2 linked regions of the Homo sapiens genome follow. The protein of the gene in region 1 interacts with the protein of each later gene in a biochemical or structural test. Each region holds a gene or a part of one and is shown on either strand. Other genes may lie near its edges. The genes, in order: MAFK and BACH1.

Region 1 (3,166 bases):
AGCTGCACGCCGGTCCACAGACACACTCACGCCCGCCACCTGCTCCCCGCAGGATGTGTCTGTGTGTGGGAATTGGTATCTTGCACCCGTGGGAGTCGGGACATATAATGGAAAGGCCCTCGGGAAGTTCCGCGTCCTCTGTGGGGGCTGCCGGAAGACACGGCCCCAGGAGTCAGGCCCCTGTGGTCAGGTCTAGCATGGGGCTTGTTTTCCACTCCTGCTGTAAGCAGCCTTCGACACCTGTCCTGCCACGGCCTCCCAGCCGGTGCGGGAGCCCCTCACTGCCCTGACCGACTCCGCAGTCCCCGGGGAGGAGCATGGATGGTGTGTCGGCAGCTCCGTCCTTCCAGCTGTCCCGTTGCAGTGCCCGTGATCCGCGTCTGCCTTAGCAGGGGCCTGCGTGAGTGGGCACGGTGTGGGAGGTCGCCTGCGTGGGGTGGTGTCTGTGTGTGTGCACGCACGCCTGCCATCAAAGCAGCAGGGCTGAGGGGGTGCAGCTTGCTGGTGTTCACTGGGGGAGGGCCTGTGGGCACACATGGCAGAGAGAGTGGCTCACACGTCGTGAGGTCTCCCCTGTGCTCTGGTGACCCGAGGAGGTCGTGCAGCACAGCGCAGAAGCCCCTGCCCACGGGATCCGGCCCCCCAGACACCGACCCCACAGGCCGTCCCGGATCTCAGCGGACACAGGCAGGAGCGCCCCATCATTTGACGGTGAGCAGGACTCAGGCTGTGTGTCCTGGAGCTACTTCTCACCAACTGTGGTCAGTGCAGGGGGAACGAGGAGGTCTTTTGGGGGCCTGGCGAGGGGAAGGGCTGCTGCAGTCTAGGGAGAGGGGGTGCAGCCTGGGGGATGTTGGTGGACATGGATGTGGAGGTGGAAGGAGGAGGACGTTGCGTGGAGTGGTGGGAGGAGGCGGGAGCCGTGTGCGAGAGCAGGTGGAAAGCCTTGAGGGGCAGGACCAGGATGCAGCTGGCTTGTAGAAGAGCTCAGGAGTGAGCCTGGCACTCCAGAGGGCGCGGCGGGTGGGGAGGCAGCAGGCACCAGTCCAGGAGAGCTTCGTGGACGTGGCTCCTGCGCGCACACCCCCAGGAGCACAGCCACGGGCTGCAGGTGTGGCTGGCCTCAGCACTCAGTCCTCACCCGGAGCCTTTGCCTGCTCCTCCTTCCAAGAGCACTGAGGCACCAGTGGGCTTGGCACTCCACCTTGGGCTTCCTTTTCCTGGAGAGCCGCCTTGAGGGTCCCTCCTGTGACTGGGGTCTCTGCAGCGAGAGCCGCGGGGGTTGCGGAGCCCCTGCCTGGGGGAGCTGGCGGAATGTGAGCCGCCGGCCGGGGGCCGCCACATAAGACCTGCAAGGTGGTGCCTGGGGCCCTGGCTCCTTCTCGGCTGCCCCTGCCCACCCAGTAACAGCCCCCACCAGCTACAGAGCCCAGGCGGGTGCCAGCCACGCTGGGAGGGCAGAGGACAGACAGCCCCGGGGCTGCGACTTGGTTCTGTGTCTACTGTTAGAAGTTGAGTGGGAAGCTGCAGGCCCGCCAGGACCACTGGGTCCCTACAGAGCAAAGGCCTGCGTGTTCCCAAACAGCCGTTGCCCCCGTGGCCGTGGTAGGTAATCCATATTGGATGTCATAAGGACCAGGGGGATATTTAAAGAGAGAAACAGAAAATATATAGAGATATAAAATTATATTCACAGTTTATCTACAGATTTTTCGTAACAATCTTTCTTTTCCAGTTTGATACTGTAAATCTATCAGAGCAGAGCCGGGGGCACGGGCACAGGTGGGAGTTGGGAGCAAAGCGGAGGCCCGGGCTGCCCGCCGTCCCCCTTCATCTCCCCACGGACTGTACCAGGCAGCTGGGCCCCGCAGGACAGGCCGCAGCGGGTGGCCGGTTCTGTCCCGTCTTGGGGTTCTTGGTGTCCACGTCTTGTGGGCCGTGGGCTTCTACCTGCCCTTGGCCTGCAGTGCTTTGCTGGAGAAGGGACTCCCTGGTCCCCAGGGTGGACGGAGCCGCTGTCACCGCCCAGAGCTGGGCCGGGGAAGCACGGTGTGTTCTGCTTTTCTTTTCAGATTGTTGAAATTTCATTGTCATGATTTAATATATGGATTTTTTTATTTAAGAAAAAGACGAGGGACTCTTTGTCACGTGGGTTTGTTTTCTGTCTCCGTGCCTCCGGCTTCCCAAAGAGATCCAGGTCTTTGCGTTTCCAGGGCGTGGGGACCCCGGCCCCCTATGCCGCCACGCCGCCACACCGCCTCACCCTGGCTTCTGTGCTACTTGGCAGTTCCATTTCATTATTTATTTTTTGTGCTGCTTTTTATCATGATATAAATTATTGAAAACAGATCACATGTGGGCCCGTGTCTGGCCGCCGCCGCCCTGCCCCGTCCCTGCGGCCACCACCTAATTTATTGCCGTGCGTCCTGCTGCTGTGACTGCTTTTGTACCTTTGCAATAAAGAATTTTCTGGTTTCAGACCCTTTCGTTGCGTAGCTGGTGCTTTCAGCTGGGGCTTTCTTGGGCCAAGAACCACACCCCCCCCCCAATCCCAGGGGACCCTGCCTGTCCCTCACCGGGGTCAGGATCCGGGCACTACGTGTAAGTGGCTTTCCCGGACTGCTGGGCCGTGACCGTGAGGCTGGGACAGCCACGGGGGAGGTGCTGGTCAGGTGACCACGTCCTGGGCTCAGTCTCTGAGGGTCAGGCCGCAGTCCTGAGTGTCCCCATCTGCCCCACCCGGAGCCCCCTGTCCATGCAGCCTCTCCCTTCCAGTGGAAGGAGCAGAGAGCAGCACGGCTGTCAGTGTTCCCCTTCCCTGGGAGACATCTCGCCCAGCTTTGCTGGACTCTCAGAGGAGCCTGCAGGAAGCTGTGAGCAAGACAGGGTCTGTCTGGGAGCAGAGAGCAAAGCGCCCCTGCACAGTGGCCGGAAGCCCGTGGACTCCTCCGAAAAGCCACGGGCCTGCCCGCATGCCGTCCCCACCCCGCCCGGCCTTCCCCGTTTTTGGGGCTGAGCTGACCGAGGTGTGAACGCTGTTCAGTGCTGGACCACGCAGGGTGAAATCCCAACTCGAGTTTTTTGAGACAGTATCTTGCTTTGTCACCCAAGCTGGAGTGCAGGGGCGTGATCACAGTTCACTGCAGCCTCGACCTCCCAGGCTCAA
Region 2 (3,051 bases), on another chromosome or scaffold:
TTCTGTTCCTTTAACACGCCAGGCTTATTTGTGCCAAGTGGCCTCCTCTCCCCAGAGACCATCTTCTCCCGATTCAGACTACAATCTTTCAAAGCTTGGTGAAATCCCACGTTTCTCACCCTGTCTCCTTTGAACTCTTGCAGCCACCACACTATCTCACACAACTGAGCACTTTCTTACAAGTCATCTTGATTCCATCGTTGGTCTAGTCAGGGTTTCTCAATGTCAGCCAGATCGATACCCTGGGTGGGTAATTGTTGTGAGGGCTGTCCTGGCCTCTGCCCCTAGAAGCCATATCCTATACCCTGCCCCCGAGATTTGTGTCTCTGGGAACTGCCAAGTGTCCCCTAGGCAAGCAAAATCATCCCCAGCTGAGAATCACTATGATTAGACCAGAAGACTTTGCCCTGGATGGCCAATACCGCTGAGCAGCTGCCCAAAGCTTGGTCAGAAGGGCCTGGTTGGAAATTGAATAGGATACAAAGAGCTGACTCGGCAGATAAGTTTTTAAAACTTAATGACTGATAGAGATAATACCCCTTAAGAGTCCCTATACTTCTCTATCCAAACTAACATTAAGTAAAATCAGAAGCAAAGCTAAAATCTGTGCTTCCTAAAACACCTGAATGCTGGAATTTTTTTTTTTTTGAGGCATGATTATCATCAACTAAGGAAAGATTCTCTCCTACAAATTCAGATATACTAATTACCGATCAAAAGACTAAACTGAGTAAATCCACATGAAGTGAGAAAATGAAAATGGAATGTACAATTCTATTCAATTAGAAGCAATTTTAGAGAATTTTATTTAACTGTCAACTTATCACCAACATCTAACATTTTTTAGTTCAGGTACATTTGGGTAAGAACATTAGGGAGAAATGTAAATTAAATACTATGAAACTATGCTTTTAATGAAACATGGTCTCAGTAAAATATGGACACAAAAGTTTAGTGGTTTTATTGCATTGTTAGAAAATTATATTATGAAAGATATAAAAAAATCAATGTTTTTCTGCTTCTTTTATAATCAGTATGCCATCTTCTACCATTATGGCTTTAATTTTCATTCTACCCAACAAGTTTCAAAGAATAGTTTATTACATGCCTTAATAAAACATTTAAAATATTTACAGATTCAAAATAGATGTTTTATAACTGAAAAAAGTTCACCTGAGAATTCACCGTAACATTGCCATTTTTTTCCCAAGTTGTTAATGTGACTGAGTGTCCACATGCAACCTGTATCGTCTACTGCATCTAACATACTTATTTCCTTATTTAAAATTAGTTAAGCAGTAAGCTATAGCAAACTGTTAAAAAAAATTACAGATGGAGAACCAAGACTGTATCCACATTTGTTTTGAATATGACAATTTAACGAATTATTTGCTATAGTTCCAGAATTTGAATAAGAAAAAAAATAAGGTAATGTTATTTTACTGAATTCAACATAACAGCTTTTAAAAAATCATCAAACATTGAGAAGGCCAGTTCATAAAATAGTGAACAATGATCATGTGAATATGCAATATACAAACTGAAAACATTTCAAAATTCTGCATGAAGGAAAAGGCATACACTGTATACTCATAATCCTGTCATTTGTCTTCGGCAGCCTCAAAAAAAATATTGCCTTGAAACATTTTCTTAGAAAAAACTTCTTTAGAAGTTAATGTTAAAATAGGCATAAATGTGTAATGCTATGCAATATACAGAAAACTTTCCCACTTATGGCCAAAAGACAAACGTAAAATCTTTTTTATCTGTCCATCTGCATTACAACTTGAAAATCATGTAGATATGAGGTAGTGTAGTTACTTGTATTACATGCTGGCTATTTAAAGTAATGCTAAATTTTAAGAAATTACACTTGGCCAATAATTCTGTGTCATTAATAGAAACCCTTAATGCTAAACTGTTTATAGGTAGAGAGAAATTTAAACCAAGTGCTTTACAAATTATATTTAAGCTCTGGAGACAACTACATTTTATCATAAAATAGTAGGTAATCTTTCAAAGCAAGTACAGTAGCAATTAAAGCAAAAGATTATTTGACATTTGCACATACACAAACTGATACAACCAATAGTTGGGTGTACACTGAGGTAGGAAATCAAGGGTTCCATTGGCTTAAGATTTTACATTTTGTAAACCAGAAGTTCTTATATTATTTTATATCGTGAAGCTGAAATTTAAAATTACAAGTATCAAAGAAATACCTATATGGAGAGATATATATGTATACATACACATACACACACACACACACACACACACACACACACACAAATTCTTTTGCAGTATGGGATGCACTATCAGAATTATTCTCCCTGACAAATTCTTGAGTGTACTTATAAAAGCTACTAGAAAATAAACAAGTCCAACTAATTTTCTCTTACAAATAAGTCAGTGACAGAGAGAACATACAAACCACTGAAAATATACTAGCAATATCCTCCCCCTACACCCTGATCAAAAAGGGTAACATTTGACAAATTACTCCAAGACATGAAGACTGGTCCCCATATACTCTCAAGGGCAAGGCCAACTTGCTTCAGACTTGTTCATACACAGTGGGTGGTGGCTGCCCACATTAGCTAGACAAGCCCTGCACTAGGCTCAGGATGCAGTCTATAGAAGTGTCTCTTTCAGCCCTCTGATTTTGGTGAAATCAACACTATAAACTACTCCTCTGTACCATTAAAACTGGGTTCTGCCAATGTTTCTGTGAATGTGAATATATGCATTTTTTTTAATTGCTGAGAAGATCCATAGCTTTCATTTGACTCTCAAACACATCTAACCCCAGCATGGCTAAAAGCCACCGCAAAATGTTATGCGATAGGTGCTCAGTTATCTATTTTGTAACAGGACTGAACAAACACTAAGACTGATCTTTAAATGTCCAAGTTAAAATGATTTGTGTGTCTTTATACCACACCAAATTTGGAGAAGAGAGCAAGGATTCAACCTGCTTTTCAAATGCAAACCCACAATAGAAAAAGATTGAGTTTCATCCTATTTCACAAACCTGCAGAGTTGCTGCAG

What was found.
Region 2: the proteins of MAFK (region 1) and BACH1 form a complex in vitro, tested with the Homo sapiens proteins (one study listed by BioGRID).

Annotation. Positions count from the first base shown.
Region 1 is NC_000007.14:1,540,564-1,543,729, forward strand, and holds the end of MAFK (transcription factor MafK), read left to right. Parts: 3' UTR 1-2,480; downstream 2,481-3,166. UniProt on the Homo sapiens protein: Since they lack a putative transactivation domain, the small Mafs behave as transcriptional repressors when they dimerize among themselves.
Region 2 is NC_000021.9:29,343,875-29,346,925, reverse strand, and holds the end of BACH1 (transcription regulator protein BACH1), read right to left. Parts: 3' UTR 778-3,051; downstream 1-777. UniProt on the Homo sapiens protein: Transcriptional regulator that acts as a repressor or activator, depending on the context. Binds to NF-E2 DNA binding sites. Plays important roles in coordinating transcription activation and repression by MAFK.